Regions from separate parts of the Homo sapiens genome. Here region 2 is linked to region 1. Evidence: fine-mapped expression QTL. A gene starts in region 1. The other region holds a variant in brackets. All regions are shown on one strand. Distances are between the middles of the regions. Region 1 holds the start of RPAP3 (RNA polymerase II associated protein 3). Region 2 has its middle 62 kb from the start of LINC02156.

The links. PIP is the estimated chance that this variant, and not a neighbour inherited with it, causes the effect. A credible set is the group of variants that fine-mapping cannot tell apart.
Region 2: its variant is the best candidate, but not a certain one, in a credible set for the expression of RPAP3 in whole blood (INTERVAL, PIP 0.70).

Annotation. Positions count from the first base shown.
Region 1 is chr12:47,702,892-47,710,894 of GRCh38, forward strand. RPAP3 (RNA polymerase II associated protein 3) reads right to left here and starts at 3,139. Exons shown (of 17, transcript NM_024604.3): 1 at 3,061-3,139. It overlaps ENDOU (endonuclease, poly(U) specific), which reads right to left. Exons shown (of 10, transcript NM_001172439.2): 10 at 6,843-8,003. The coding sequence ends at 7,911. It overlaps RPAP3-DT (RPAP3 divergent transcript), which reads left to right and starts at 3,197. Exons shown (of 4, transcript NR_183480.1): 1 at 3,197-3,272. RefSeq lists enhancers at 2,353-2,854, 2,855-3,354, 3,075-3,369, 3,301-3,450 and silencers at 2,601-2,690, 2,721-3,010, 3,081-3,160.
Region 2 is chr12:47,473,115-47,481,887 of GRCh38, forward strand. No RefSeq gene overlaps it. Among named protein-coding and RNA genes, the nearest start is that of LINC02156, 62 kb to the left of the region's middle. The variant T/A (reference allele first, on the strand shown) is at 4,059.

The DNA.
Region 1 (8,003 bases):
TGGTTTATTTTTCTGAAAGCTAGCTAATTATCTTTTACCACTTCATAAGTGGCCAAGATACATGGACAGAAGACAGCCAACTGATGCTGAATAAAGAAAAATCAATATAATATTTTAAAAATAAATCAGTTGCTGAATAAACAAATGAAAAATAGACAAGTTGAAGCATCCTTGAAAGGCAACATTAAAGAAAGGTAATGGGGAGAAAAATCACTGAAATTATCAGGTAGCCTGTGGTAGCAGACAGGCTGCTCATCTCTGGAGTTGAGCGATTACCTCCTTTATTTCTTTTTCTTCCAACATTTAACTTCTACTATGTGAAAGGCCCTGAATCAAGATTTAGGGATGCAAAAACAAGACAAGGTCCCTTGTGCAGTGGAGAAGAAAAAAATATATAAAGCACTAGTAACAAAATATGTTAAGCAGGGTTTCTCAACCTTGGGACTACTGACATTTTGGGCCAAAAAATTTATTTTAAGAGTGCTGTCCTGTGCATTGTAGGAGGGTTGGCAACATTTCTGTCCTCTACCAACTAGGTGCCAGGATTATCCCTTCCTCTCATGGATTGTGACAACGAAGAATCCCAGACACTGCCAAATGTTCCCTGAGAGGTAAAATAACCCCTGGTTGAGAACCCTGCGTCAGAGGTACATACAGATGCTATGGAACTGACTGCAAAAAATAGGCATGGATCAGATAGTAGGGTGGTGGTGTCACGGAAGGAGTCCCCAGAGGTGTTGGAACTTTAGCTGGATTTCAAAGGGGCCCGCCAAGTGACTAACAGGGAGGAGTGGGCAGGCAGAGTGAGGAATTATGAGGGAGAATGAAGGAAAAGAAAATTAAAGAGGTGGACATGGGACAGACTTGAAATGGCAGGCCATGAGGTCTAACCTATATTCTGAAAGTTATGTGAAAATATCAAGGTAGTAAAATAAAAAGAACTTGATGACTGACTAGACTGAGGTGTTGGAGAACAGAGAAAGACTCAAACAGTGGCCTAGATTTCTGGCTTGGGACCCCGGTAAGATTACTGATGCCATTTTGAGTCAAGAAATACAATGTTAAAAGGAAAAGAGGCATCAAAGTTGGAGGGCAAACGGAAAGTCAGATTATTTGTTTGGGATATGCTGAATTTGAGTGCTAATGGGGCGAAGAGATACCCCATAGGTAGCTATGTAGGAATAGAGATAAATTCCGGTGTCACTAGCAGAAAGGTAGAAGCTAGAATCAAGGATGTGGCCATGTTTAACCATTGTGACAACTGGGGAATGGGGTGAACCTGGAGAACACTAAACGGAGAAAGAGATGCCAAGGAAGAAAAAAGTAGGCAGTAGCACCTAGACAGTTGGGAGAAAAACCTAGAGTGTACTGTTACAGATGACAAAAAATGAGTTGAAGAAAGTGAGAGGTTAGCAGTGCCAAATGCCACAGAGGGAAAGAAAGTGCATTATATTTAGTCATAAAAAGACTATTCAGAGTTTTTGTTTTTTTTCTTGAGACAGAGTCTTGCTCTGTCGCCCAGGCTGGAGTGCAGTGGCGCAAACTCAGCTCACTGCAACCTCCACCTCCTAGGTTCAAGTGATTCTCCTGCCTCAGCCTCCCGAGCAGCTGGGATTACAGGTGCAGGCCACCACGCCCGGCTAATTTTTGTATTTTTTTTTTTTTTAGTAGAGACGGGGTTTCACCACGTTGGCCAGGCTGGTCTCGAACTCCTGACCTCAAGTGATCCGCCCACCTCGGCCTCCCAAAGTGCTGGGATTATAGGCATGAGCCACCGCGCCTGACCTCTATTTAGAGTTTCAATAAGATTTTTTTTAAAGGGTGGAAGGCCAACCGCAGGTGGCTCATGCCTGTAATCCCGGCACTTTGGGAGGCAGAGGTTGGGGGGCAGGGGGAATAGCTTGGGCTCAGGAGTTCCTAGATCAGCCTGGGCAACACTTCGAGATCCCCATCTCTACTAAAAACACAAAAATTAGCCAGGCGTGGTGGAGGGTGCCTATAGTTCCAGCTACTCAGGAGGCTGAGGTGGGAGGATCGGGAGATCGAGGCCACAGTGGGCGGTGACGGGCCCACTACACTCCAGCCTGGGACCAAAAAAAAAGGAGGGGGGGGAATGAAATGAGTTACGTAAATGAGATTATATGGAGATTACAGTACATTTGCCTTTGATAATATAAGACTTGTTCTTGAGCATAGTCTGGGGAAAAAGCAACAAAGTAAAAGATACAGGAAAAAGGATGAGTGATGGGGCAAAATCTCCAAAAAGGTAGGAGAAGAGTCAAAGCTTTAGGCGGAGGGAAGAGAAGTAAGGTGGGAGGGAGAGAGACGGAATTAGAAAAACATTTGTTTAGGACAGTGAAAAATACCTCACTAAGAAGGGACAGTTGCAGATGCAGATAGGTCTTCTGACTCGTAGCCTCAACAACTAAATTAGGTTTAAGCTTCTTTCAGGCAGTGTCCATGTTTGACCATATATGCACAACTCATTCAAAAACAAAACTAGTACAACGCTTTGTTGGGAACTCAAATAAATGAATAAAAGCGCAACAAGTCAGTGAGATGCTGACGGGGGTTAGATGCTTTTCCATTTCACCCATCACCGCTGCTGCTCGAGCAGGCCCAAAAACTCTCCCAGGGACCCTGCGATGGGGCGGGGGTGCGAGCCAGCAATCAAAAACTTCCAGCGCTGGGGGTATCACTTTCACACCCGCTGTCCCGGCGAACACCGCACACCCACGCCGCAAGGGGGCGGGCCCCACCTCGGTCTTTGCGGGAGGGCGGCTCTGCCTTCCCGAGCACTGCAAAATCGCAGCAGGGTGGAGGGTCCGCCTGCAAAGCAGAGCGCGCAGGCCCGGGTTGCGGGGGCGAGCCCCTCCGGGAACGCGCGACCCGAGACGCCGCTGCCCTGGACACCGACGCGCCGCCTCAACGCGCGCCTCCACCGCCAGCCCCGGCCCGCCCCGCCTCACCGGTACCCATAACCGCTACCCCTCCTCCCACCGGCCACCCCAAGGATCTCCTACGCTGCTCCGGGCAGCGAGAACCGCAACGCCCGCTCACCTGACCAGGCCGTAACCCGCCGCACTGCCACCCCGTCAGCCCCGCAGCGACTCACGCCGAGCCCGGCAGTGACTCACGCAAAGCCCCGCCTCCTGCGCTTCCCCACAAGCCCCCGCGGCCTCGCCCCGCCCCCTTTAGCCTGGGCTTGAGCGCGCGCAGAAGTCAGCTTCGTGACTTCCTTCTCAGGATGGAACCAGCTTGGTGGCTTGAGGGTATGTAAAAGCAATATCTGAGCCTTCTGCCTGCTTCCAATATGACTAAGCTTAAAAGGAGATAACCCAAAAACTGCAGGATCATCCTGATTTTCTGATCTCCAAAACAATAAAACCTTGAATATTTCCCTGGACTCCCTTAAACAGTTTAATCCCTAATATTTACCTTGCTAATCTCTGACCTTTGTGACATTAATTTGTCTGACCTTTGTGAGTATAATAACCATGTGAGAAAGTTACTGTTTTTCCACCATGAACAGACTACTGTCAACCGGTAATCCTGGTAATTTTAGGGGATTTTTTTTTCCCTTTAAGTACTGGTTGGCAAACTAGTCCTTCCGTCTAACTCCTCGCATCTTTTGCAAGTAAACCCCTTTTCTAAGTGAATCTATCTCTGAGTCTTTCTTTGACATGTGCCAGTGTTACAATCTGTCTTTAGATATGCTCTGGCTTACAGAGAAAAAAGAACGAAACTTTTAACACTTTTTGCTTCTGCTTCCCGTGTGAGGGAGTCTTCGTTGCAATGACAACTCTTAAACGAAAGCAAAACAAAAATAATTGCAGAAGTCCACAGAAGCAAACACAAACAAATGAAACTTTCCATTTAAAACAGGACTGTAACCTCAAATATCCTCAAAATCCAGATCGGTGGTTCTCAGTCTTGACTGAGCTTTGGAATCACTTAGGGAGTATATACATATACACGTGTGTGTGTGTGTGTGTTTGTGTCTGTGTGTGTGTGTGTGTGTGTGTGTGTGTGTGTGTGTGTGTGTATACTGATTTCTGTGTCCTATCCCAGAGATTCTGATGTAACTAGTCTTGAGTGAAGCCAATCAGAATTTTTTAAAGCATAGGATACGGCTGTGCATTTGAAGCTGGAAGCCACTAACCCAGGCGCTGATCAATGAAGAACTAGGCTGGAGTGCTGTCTTACAAGGTCATATCATTAGCACATCCTTCCCATTGCTTAATTATTGGTATCTTTATATTTTAAAATCATAGTAGTCAAATCATTAAGTGTACGTCAAAATATTTACTAATGAAATGATTCTTTGGTTGTATTAGGGAGATAGAGAACTGACTTTTAATAATTTTTTTATTAAGTATTTAAAAGCAAATATTGATTTACTGGTGTTTTTAACAAAAGCAACCACATTTGTTTTATTAATTCTGACAGAGTTGATTGAGAAGAGAGATAAGGGGGCTAGCTGGCTGCTCTAGTAAAACCTCATAGACCCTTAGGTGACCCTGCTTTTCTCTCTCTTTTTCTCTCTCAAACCATACAATAATCAGAAGTAGCTTAGTGAATATAGAGTCAAAGTGAGAAAAGTTAATCAAATGGTTTTGATGGTCATCATCACCTAATTCTGAGGCTCCTGCTGTCCCACAAAACCTGTGCCTGCAATGGCAGCCTTCTCTCCTGTGAGCTCAGACCTAGGCCACCTTAAGTTCTTTCCTAGATTCCTTGCAGACCTCCCCACTTCTATTGGCAGTTATCTTTAAATGGATTTCAACAAAATGTGTAAATAATGCCTTTCTTTTAAGTCTCTTTTATTCATTTACTCCAGTCATCTCAATTGAACTTATCATTAATACCTGAAGAGTTATTTTCAAAGAGACAAACCTCTTTATGTGTTTTATGTGTTGCAGTTGTAATGGTCAGTGGAAATAAACAGGAGTGTTTATTATTGCAACAATAAAATGCTGCAATTAATGATTGTAAATGCTATTAATTTTAATATCCAAAACAATTATTGGGCTCTTTCAAATAGTTAAAGAGTCTGACAGTTAATGTAAATCTTAAGAAAGGAAGTATTAGCTAAGTAACTTTAGGAAGAAAATGAACCTTGGGACTTCCTGTTATGGAGATACTATGTTAAGTTTGGTTGCATGTGACAGAAAGCCCAAAATAAGAGTGGCTTAAACATGAAAGATTATTTTTCTTTCATGTAAAACTGAATATAAGCAATCCAGGATTAGTGTGACAGTTTCGGTGTGAGACCCAGGCTCCTTCCTGGCTGCTCTGTGATCTTCAGCATATGGCTTTCATTCATGGTTCAAGCTGGCTGCTCAAGCTCCCACGATCTTGTCTGAAATCCAGTCGGCAGAAAAGGGCAAGAGTGGGAATAACGGTACCCCCTGCCCATTAAGAATACTTCCTTTTGCATGCCATTGGTGAGGACATAGACACACGCCTACTTCTGGTTGCAAGGGAGGTCAAGAGTCTGTACTCTTGACAGTCATTTGTGTACCTAAAAACTGAGACTTCAGTGAATAAGGAAGAAGAGGAGAGCAGATACTGAGGGGTAACCAGCAGCCTCTGTCAGGGGTCTTAATAAATATTCTTTAAAAAATAATGAATGAATAAGTGAGTAGATACTACTAGAAATCCAGGCTCACTACAACATGAGGAAAAGGGTTGAATTTTGCAATCCTGATTCTGCTACTGACTAAGAATGTGGCTTAATCTGATCCTCAGTTGTCTAGGTAAAATTAAAGTGGTGAAGATAAAAATACCCACCAGAGTGAGAAAATGAATATAAAAGGACTACTTAGCACAGCTTGGGACATGGTAACAGCTTAACAAATGTTAGTTCTTACCTTTCTCTCCTGCAAAGCTAAGGCCCAGACCCTGGAATACAGTACTCTCTCCTGCATTTCTGTCTTTCTGTCTCCTACTGGACTACCTGGAAGACCTCTGAAGAGGCCTATGAAGAGCACAAGTACTGGGCACCAGTAGGTGAAGGTTAAGGCTGATAGCAGGGATAGTAAATTGCCTCTCCCAGTATAAAATTAAATCTGTATAATAAGTGAGACAATAATTACTATAAGAAAGACTAGCATGTTATTTCACATTCCTTATCTCACAACAATGGTAATATTATCCCCATTTGACTGGTGAGGAAACAATCTGAATAATTAAGAAATTTGCTCATATGGCCAGTAAGCAACAGAGCCTGGCTAGGTACCTGGGCAACATGACTTCAGAGCCTGTACCTGTTACCCCTGTGCTCTACTGACTCACTGTCTTGCCTATTGACTGTGAACATCTCTGGGAAAGGGCAGGACAAGGCCCTGTTTCATCTATCTGCAGGCTATAAACTTGCCCGAGGTATCTCTTCATACCTGACCGTTTTCTAGCATTGTGGCTTGAGTAATCTGTTTACAGATAAGAAGTCTTTTTCTGTATCTCTTTAGCATCTCCTCTTCCCCCAGTGTGGTCAACCTCTGCAACCACAGAAGCTACATCCAGAAATGTCCTTATACTCCTGTGTATTTGATAAAGGGGACTGGTTATTGGGGATGGGGACCACCAATCTCCATTTACCACCCCCCCACCGGCCGCCTCACTATCTGTATGCAATGATCCTTCCACTCTTCATATTACAGAATTCTCTTCCCCTCTTGGCTAGAGAGACTTAGTGAGTCAACAGAGACTTCACCCAGATACCACATTCTTCAAGCCATTCTGAAAAGACTCTAGAGCAAAAGTATCACTGCCAGCCCTGCTCTAGGGAAAAGGCAGGGAGACAGACATTGGAGGGAGGCCATATACAAAGAAGACACTCATTTCAAGTTTTCTTCAATGACTTTAATTGGAAACTTGAACCTTCTAAACCATAGTTCACACCCGGCTCTGTGGTACAGCATTTAGTTCTCAGTGGGGTTGGGGGACAAATGCATAATTGAGGTTAAAATAGGGAACTACAGTCTCTCTGGTCTCGTAGAGTTATTCAAATTATGGCTGCTGGATAAGGCTTAAAATAATTATGTTAATGACACCAAGCTATGGGTTCCTTCTTCTTCTGATGCTGAATCATCCTCCTATGAGGAGAACTCTTTCAAAAAAAAATTGGGGATCAAAATACAAGTCTGTGGCTGCACTAAACATCCACAAGTGGGAAACTTCTTGTTGCAGATACTGAGCTGGACACAAAAACACTCAGGCCTGGAGAAGGCCACCCCACCCCCAGCCCATTCACTGCACCAACCTATTACCCTTCTCCATTCAGCATTGGAGTTCTCCCAGACTCTGTTCTGAGAGGATCTAACTCTGGAAAAAACCAAAGGCCCTTGCTTGATTACTGTGGCCTTACTTCTTTGAGGACCCCAACACAGGGCTGAGTGGTAGTTTACAGAGCTGTGTATAATAACAGCCATTATAGTAATCTTGAATTTCTATCAGCTGTTCTTCCTAAGAACAACTGAAAACACCTTCACAGTAAAAATATCAGGGTTTGCCCTCTCACCAACCCCAAAAAGAGGAAAGTGGGCAAACCCCTTCCCTTTACATTAAAGGGAAGCATGAGGCCTGGTGAGGTCAAAGGACTTCTTCCTAGTTCCCCCACACATCAGGGCAGAGAGCTATGGAGGGTTCCTACCTTCTCTGCTTGGACTCTGTTTCTTAGTCAACATTGCCAAAATTCTAGAGGATAAAGGTTTGACTGTTTATCCACATTTTTCTAATTTGTACATTTTATCTCTTTCCCATGTGGGCACTTTGGGATTTAGGAATGCTTCTCATTGCTTTGAGATTTGGTGATCCCTTCCAGTCCTCTCCCTCTTCTCTCTAGTCCAGAGAAGATAGCACTTCAGTCTCGCAAGAGCCCTCATGCCCCTTTCTGGCTCGAAGTTCTATTAGGTGGAAGACACTATGTAGGCTGTGGCGATGTACTTCTTGCCATTCCCATAGGTGGACTTGTCCCAGGTATATGTCCGGACAGCTAAGGG
Region 2 (8,773 bases), 230 kb before region 1:
AGGAACAGCCTCTTCCCTCTCTTCCTAGAAGGAAAAATAGAAATAAAAGCAGTCTATAACGTGCAAGAAAAGGATAGAATTTCAGCTTCCCATTCGGCTGATGTGATTCTTTCTTTTCGACTGTAAAATGCTTTAACAACAGAACACATAAACAGAGCTCACAGAGTCTAGGCACTAAGCCAAGAGCCCCTCATAGATGATCTTGTTCAATTCTCCCTGTGATTCTATGAAGAGCACTGCTCTGATGCTCATGTTAGAGATGAAGAAATTGGATTTCAAGTGCTTGAACAACTTGCCCAAGAGAATATTTAACTAATAAAGTTGTGAAACTGTGATTCAAACCCAGGAAGCCTAGATTCTTAACCAAGAGCTTACATTCTTAAAGAAGGTGCTATACTACCTCCCAAGTAAAAAGCTAAAACAAAACACCTTATGAGGACAGCTTTATATTTTAATATCCTACTTCAGATAATAATAAAGGATAGCTTCACTTTCATTTCAACTGTAACTCATAAACCTTGGAGCTAAAGATAAAAGGTGTAATCATTAGGCTACTTTCACATCAAGTACCATAATTTTCCACTTCCCACTATTTAAAATTATTACCCATTGTCTCCATGTGTAAGAGTTTAGTCATAACAGGGAATAATGTTTCTTTACAGTAATGAAGTTCTTGTGAATATCAGAATATGAGAGAAAAGGGTCTCTTCTGTTCCAGAAGAATCATAGTAGAGTCTGAAAGCATGAGATTAAGGGAGTTTAAGAGGTTTATACATCCACACAGTACCCATAAACACAAACCTAAACACTATAGAATCCACTTGTGGTTCAGTTTACTAAGTGAATCAATAAACTCGCATATTTGAAGCGCTCTGCCTATTATAAAGTGCTATACAAGTGTTGATTGTTTTTTCTAAATCAATTCTTCAGAAATGTAGACACTATAGGAAAATAAGATGGAAAGGCCATAATGCTAACAGAGATTGTACTTTATTGTTGATTATATTATGAGGCTCTGCTTTATGGCAAATACTCCTGGGAATATGTTTAGGCACCTTTAGTTCAAATGACTATGTGATGTCAGTCTGACAACCCTATTTGTGGGACAAACTGCATGCTTGAGTCAGTTGCAGAGCTCTGTGTAGTGTTATAAAACAGAGGTTTTTTTTTTTTTCCCAAGATAATTGATTAGAGGTTTTCAGCATGCCTTAGCCACTTGGAAATAGCAAAATCAGTCATAAAGATCAACTCTGTGGGCTTTAATTCAAGAAGGAAAACAGGAATCCACCAGAATAGTGAAGGACATCTCATCCCAGGTGCCAGGGAAGAGAAGGTGGGCAAGCTGCCCCGATGATGGCATTTGTCTGACAAAAGTGAGTGAAGCCCTAGAACAGGACAGGAGGAGGTAGAAAGCCTCCCTCTGTGACTCACCTTTCCACTGGGGATCCATGCAACCAGGCTAAGGGAGAGCACTTTGTTCCTCCAAAGCCTTGGCGCCAACTTGGAGAGAAGCTTGGAGACACTGAAAGGGAAGGACACCAGACAAAGTTGTAGGCATTTTCCCAGGCCTGATTTGGAGACTGTGGCACCATTTTTAATCTGGGTGCATACAACATCAGTCATTATTTAGTAGCCTGGCACCATGGCCATACAGCATTTTAGTCTTGGACTAGAGATTGGAGCACCTGCTCTGGAGCTGAGTAGGAGCCTCCACAGCCAGAACAAGTATGGAAAGCACCCAAGCTGTAGGAACTGGAATTGTGCTCTACCCGATCACAGGTCTGGTGCAGGAGGAGAGTGCTGACAGCCAGTTTCTCCTTGGTGAGAAGATGGACAGCCAGGGCCAGTTTGGGGACCTGGAACTGGTCTACATGTGCCATTGCTGGGTGCCCCAGCCTGCTCCCCTGAGATTGTGATGTAGTAGAGCCCTTTCTACTCCACACCCAGGCTGATCTCCAAGCATTCAGAGCACCCACTCTTCTGGATTAGCATCCTGAGCTGCTCCACCCCTCCTGTGCATAGATTGGGGTGCCATGGGGCCTCTTCTGTTCCATATCCGGGCAGATCTCCAGGCAGTTAGAGCACCCCCTTGATGGGATCTGCAGCTAGAGCCACCCTACCCTTCCTGTACATAGAATGTGGTACAGCAGGGCCCTCTCCACTTTACTTCCAGCAGATCTCCAGGCATTTGGATCTCCCACCCACCTACACCAGCAGCCTGAGTTGCCCAGTCATCCTATGCATAGATTGTGGTGCAGTGGTGCCATCTCTGTCCCATGCCCAGGTTGATCTCTAAGTATTTGGAGCACATCACCTGGGTAAGCAGCCTGAGACACTCCACCCTCCCTATGCAGAGATTGTGGTGGAATGGGGCCCTCTACACTCCACACCCAGGCAGAGCTCCAGGCATCTAGAGCAGTCATTCTCCTGGATTTGGAATTTAGGTGGCTGCATTCCCTGTGCAGAGAACTTGAAGCCAAAGAGTTCCTATTCAGCCCCAAGGCACACCTAGACACATCTGTGGGCACTTGGTGGCTGTGCACTGGACCCCCCTTGGTGCTGGTTCTTGTGCCTGCCATTGGGTGACCTGTAAGCAGGCCTGGTCTAGCCCCAACCATCTTTATCCCTCAGCTATGGTGCTGAGCAGGGTGCTCAGGCCACTGTGAACTCCACAGATCTGCCATTTGCTTCCAGAAACAGAGACCTTCTCCAGTAAACAAGGATTAAACATATACCCATCTATGTTGGCCACATCTGGCTCTTACTCATTAGAACCATGAACTTGTCTGTAGGTTGAACTGCCCAATATAAAACTGGCTGACAGAAGTGCATAGAGATATTGAAATGAAGCCAAAAGGTTTTACCCAACATTCTCTAAAGTCATATCCCCTAGGGACATGGGCAAAGGGGAAGAAAATAATAACACAGGAAAAGAGAGAAAGGAAAAACAAATCCTATCTGCATGAAAATAATGACAAAATTTAGAAGTGTCAGTGGCCTCAGATGAGAAGGAACCAGTGCATGAATTCTAGCACCATGAAAAATCTGAGTGCTGTGACATCATCAAAGGATCACACTAGCTATCCAGCAACAGTCTGTAATCAAAATGAAAACTCAGAAAGGAAGGATGAAGAATTCAAAGCATGGATTACTAGGAAGCCCAGTGAGATCCAGGACAAGGTTGAAAATCAACACAAAGAAACTTCTAAAGCAATCCAGGAAATGAAGGCAGACATAAACATCTTAAAAATAAATCAATCCAAGCTTCTGGAATTGAAAAACTCACTTAAGGAATTTCAAAGTACAATTGAAACCTTTATCAATAGACTAGCCCAAACAGAAAAAAGGATTTAGAGCTAGAAGACTGATCTTTTAAACTAACCCAGTCAGACAAAAATAAAGAAAAAAGAATTTTAAAAATGAATAAGATCTTCAAGAAAATGGATTATGTAAAGCAACCAAACCTATGAATTAATGGCATTTCTATGAGAGGAGAAAAAGTAAACAACCTGGAAAATATATTCGAAGTAATAATCCAATAAAATATTTCCAGTTTTGCCAGAGAGGTAGACATCCTGTACAAGACATCCAGAGAACACCTGCAAGATACTATACAAAACGAACATCACCAAGGAATATAGTCGCCAGACTGTCCAAGGTCAATGCTAAAGAAAAAATTGTAAAGGCAACAGAAAAGATCAGGTCACACACAAAGGGAACCCAATAAGGCTAACAGAAAACTTCTAAGCAGAAATCTTTCAAGCTACAACAGTTTGAGGGCCTATTTTCAACATTCTTAAATAAAAGAAATTCCAAACAAGAATTTTATATTCCACCAAACTAAGCTTCATAAGTGAAGGAGAAATAAAACCTTTTCCAGACATGCAATTGCTAAGGTAATTCACTACCACTAGACCAGCCTAACAAGAGATCCTCAAGAGAGGTCTAAACATGGAAAAGAAAGAACAATACCTACTACCACAAAAACACATTTAAGTACATAGTCCAGAGATGCTATAAAGCAATTATACAATACAAACTACAAAGCAACCAGCTAA[T/A]GACTCCATGATAGGATCAAAATCTCACATACTAATATTAACTTTGAATGTATATGGTCTAAACACCCCACTTAAAAGGCACAGAGTGGCAAGTTGGATAAAAAAAAAGGAAGAGCCATTCATCTGCTATCTTCAAGAGACCCATCTGACATGTAATGACACCCCTAGTCTCAAAGTAAAGGGGAGAAGAAAAATCTATCACTCAAATGGAAAACAAAAAAGAACAGGAGTCACTATTCTTATATCAGATAAAATAGACTTTACACTTACAGCAGTAAAAAAGGACAAAGAAGGGCATTACACAATGATAAATAATTCAGTACCACAAGAAGACTTAACTGTCCTAGATATATACCCTCCCAACATTGGAGCACACAGATTCATAAAACAAGTACTTCTAGACATACAAAAAGACAGTCACACAATAATAGTGGAGGACTTCAACACCTCCACTGACAGCATTTGACAGGTCATCAAGGCAGAAAACTAACAAAGAAATTCTGATCTTAAATTTGACACTTGACCAATTGGACCTAATAGACATTTACAGACTAATCCACCCATCAGTCACAGAATACACATTCTGCTCATCTGTACATGGAGCATACTCTAAGATTGACCACATGCTCGCCATAAAGCAATAAATAAATTCAAAAATTCAAAACTATATGAACTATACACTCAGACCACAGTGGAATAAAAATAAAAATCAATACCAAGAAGATCTCTCAAAGCCACACAATTACATAAAAATTAAGCAACTTTCTCCTGAATGACTTCTGGTAAACAATGAAATTAAGGCAGAAATCAAAAAAGTTTGAAATAAATGGAAACAGAGACACAACATATCAAAATTTCTAGGATGCAGCAAAAGCAGTGTCAAGAGGAAACTTAGTAGCTCTAAATACCTACATCAAGAAGTTAGAGAGATCTCAAATTAATGATCTAACATTACACCTAGAGGAACTAGAAAAATAAGAGTAAGCTAACCCCAAAGCTAGCAGAGGAAAAGAAATACCTAAAATCAGAGCAGAACTGAATGAAGTTGAGACAAAAAATCCATACACAGAATCAACAAACAAAAAGTTGGCTTTTTGAAAGGAGAAATAATATTGATAGACTGCTAAGTAGATTAACAAAGAAAAAAGAGAGAAGATACAAATAAACACAATCAGAAATGACAAAGGTGACATTACAACTGATACCACAGAAATACAAGAGTCCCAGAGATTATCATGAACACTTCCATGCACACAAACTAGAAAATCTAGACTAAGTGGATAAATTTCTGGACACATACACCCTCCCAAGACTGAACCAAGAAGAAATTGAATCCTTGAACAGACCAACATTGAGTTTTGAAATGGAATCATTCATAAAAATCCTTCCAACCAAGAGAAACCCTGGACCAGATGGATTCACAGCTGAATCCTACCAGATGTACAGAGAAGAGCTGGTACTACTTCTACTGAAACTATTCCAAAAAATCGAGAAGAGACTCCTTCCTAATTCATTCTTTGAAGCCAGCATCTCTCTGATACCAAAACCTGGCAAAGAGACAACAACAAAATAAGAAAACTGCAGGCCAATATTCATGATGAACATAGGCAAAAAGAAAAAAAATCCTCAACAAAATATCAGCAAACCAAATCCAGCAGCACATCAAAGAGTTTATTCACCATGATCAAGTAGACTTTATTCCTGTGATGCAAGGTTGGTTCAGAACACACAAATAAATAAATGTGATTCACCACATAAACATAATTAAAACAAAAACCATCTGATTATCTCAATAGACTCAGAGAAAGCTTGTGATAAAATCGAACATCGCTTCATGATAAAAACCCTCCAGAAAGTAAGCATCAAAGGAACATACCTCAAAATAATAAGAGCCATCTATCACAAACCCACAGTCAACATCATACTAAATGGGCAAATACTAGAATCATTCCCCTTGAGAACTGGAATAAGACAAGTATGCTCATTCTCACCATTACTATTCAATATAGTAATGGAAGTCTTAGCCAGAGCAATTAGCAAGAGAAAGAAATAAAAGTCGAACAAAAAACCAAACACCGCATATTCTCACTCATAGGTGGGAATTGAACAATGAGATCACATGGACACAGGAAGGGGAACATCACACTCTGGGGACTGTTGTGGGTGGGGGGAGGGGGGCAGGGATAGCATTGGAAGATATACCTAATGCTAGATGACGAGTTAGTGGGTGCAGCGCACCAGCATGGCACACGTATACATATGTAACTAACCTGCACAATGTGCACATGTACCCTAAAACTTAAAGTATAAAAAAAAAGGTCATCCAAATAGGAAAAGAAAAATTCAAATTCTCTCTCTTTGCTGATGATACGGCTTTATACTTAGAAAACCCTAAAGACTCCATCAAAAGGCTCCTAGTCTTGATAAACCACTTTAGTAAAGTTTCAGGATACAAAATTTATGTACAAAATTAGTACTATTTCTATATATCAATAGTGTTCAAACTGAGATCCAAATCAAGAACACAATCCTATTTACAATAGCAAAAAAAAAAAAAAAAAGAAAGAAAGAAAGAAAGAAAACCCTATGAATACACCTAACCAAGTAGGTGAAAGTTCTCTAAGGAAGAGCCACAAAACTGCTGAAAGAAATCAGAGATGACACAAAAAAATGGAAAAACATCTCACACTCAAGGATAGGAAAAAAAATCAATATTATAAAATAGCCACACTGCCCAAAGAAGTCTACAGATTCAATGCTATTCCTATCAAACTATCAATCTCATATTTCACAGAACTCAAAGTGTTCTAAAATTCACATGAGACCAAAAAAGAGCTCTAATAGCCAAAGCAATCCTAAACAAAAAGATCAAAGCTGGAGGCATCACATTACTCAATTTCAAACTACACTATAAGAAGACAGTAACCAAAAAAGCATGGTATGGGTACAAAAATAGACACATAGACCAATGGAACAGAATAGAGAACTCAGAAATAAACCTAAACACCTACAGCCATCCAATCTTTGACAAAGTTGGAAAAAATAAGCAATGGGGAAAGGAGTCCCTATTCAATAAATGGTGCTGGGATAGCATCAGAATGCAAGGTCTGAAAAATACCTCAAACATCAATCTTAGGTTTCACAATTGCAATGTTATCTAAAAGAGAAATTGGGGAGGTTACAAATCTTTTGACCTCTGGCTACATGACTCTTGAACCATAATTCTAATCTTGTGGACAGTTTATTAGTTTTACAAAGGTGGTTTTTATACCCAAGAAAAGAGAGGGTTAGTTTTGGGAAGGGACTAATATCTTTGTTTTTGAAGTTAAACTATAAACTAAATTCCTTCCATAGTTAACTTAGCCTGTGCCCAGGAATGAGCAAAGACCATTAGCTTGTGAGGTTAGAAGCAAGGTGGAGTCAGTTACGTCAGATTTGTCTCACCGTCATAATTTTTCAAAGGTGGTTTCATTCCTGCTATTGTCACCTCTTTGTGTGTGTGTGTGTTTTGTTGTTGTTGTTTTGCCTATATGCCTCTCCTTGCTTCCATTTTTCACTTTGATACTTGTATGTGCCAGATTTGAGACCCTGGGTTGCCCTGAGAGGGAGAAAAGGCATTTTTACTACCACATCCTGCCATCTCTGTGACTGGACATATAAGTTCAATAGACAGTAAGAGATGCTGAGGTGGCTGTGAAACCTGTGAGTTTAAAATGGATTAGGATGAATAACCATAGCACCATTTGTTAGGGTTCAAAGTATCAGGGCCCAGGGAAATTCTCTGGCGTGGAAAGAAGGAGGACAGCAGGCCCACCAACCCAGAGGGTCAGTGGGCACTTCTTAATGCTTGTAAAGCTTGCTGGTGGGTGCCCTGTCCCCTACCCCTCAGGTACTCCCCATCAAGGAGCAGAAGCTCAGAAATATGCGCAGCCTGTTCCCTGGAGATAAATGACCCTAGGGATGATTCACACCTTATTTGCCTCCTTCTGCTCATTTTCATATTACCTGTCAGTTCAGATTCATATGCTGTTTGCTGCTTAAAGCCTTATTTCCTAAAATAATGAGAACAGAACGATTTTCTATTCTTTTCCAGTGTTATGGCTATATTATGGGCTTATTTTATTTTGTACCTGTGGGTAGAGTTCAATTATATCCCTGTCTTTTTCAGATATATAAAAAATAGGGCTTTCTTTATGATTCAAGATAGCTTTCTGTAATGACAAAAGTAGGGAAACAAATCAAAGGGATGAGAAAAATATTCATAGAGAAATGATGTTCTGGACAGGAGGGTCCCCATTTTATGAACATCAGAGTAGATGGATTTCACCTAGGTCTAGAGGGGAAACAAATGGGCTGATGGCTTGTGCACTCTCTCTTTTTTTTAGGAAAACATTTGCTGAGCTCTTAAAGTACACAATGTTTCTGAAGATAACCGTGAAATATTTGGGGTACGAATACAAGCACAGAAAAAAACAAAAAAGCAATTATTTTTTATTCTGTGAAGTCTCTTGGGATACAAAAAATATATGCTTTTTCCTCAAGATGACTTCTCAAGATAAATCCATTTGAATTACAACATGAGAGAGAAAGAGAATTATTCCAGTGAATTAAGGCTAAGGAGAAAATTAGGCATCAAAAACTTTTCTGTCATTCTGTCCTCTAAAATAGAATGCTAGATAACAAATATCTTAAAGAATGCATTAAACACAATGTAG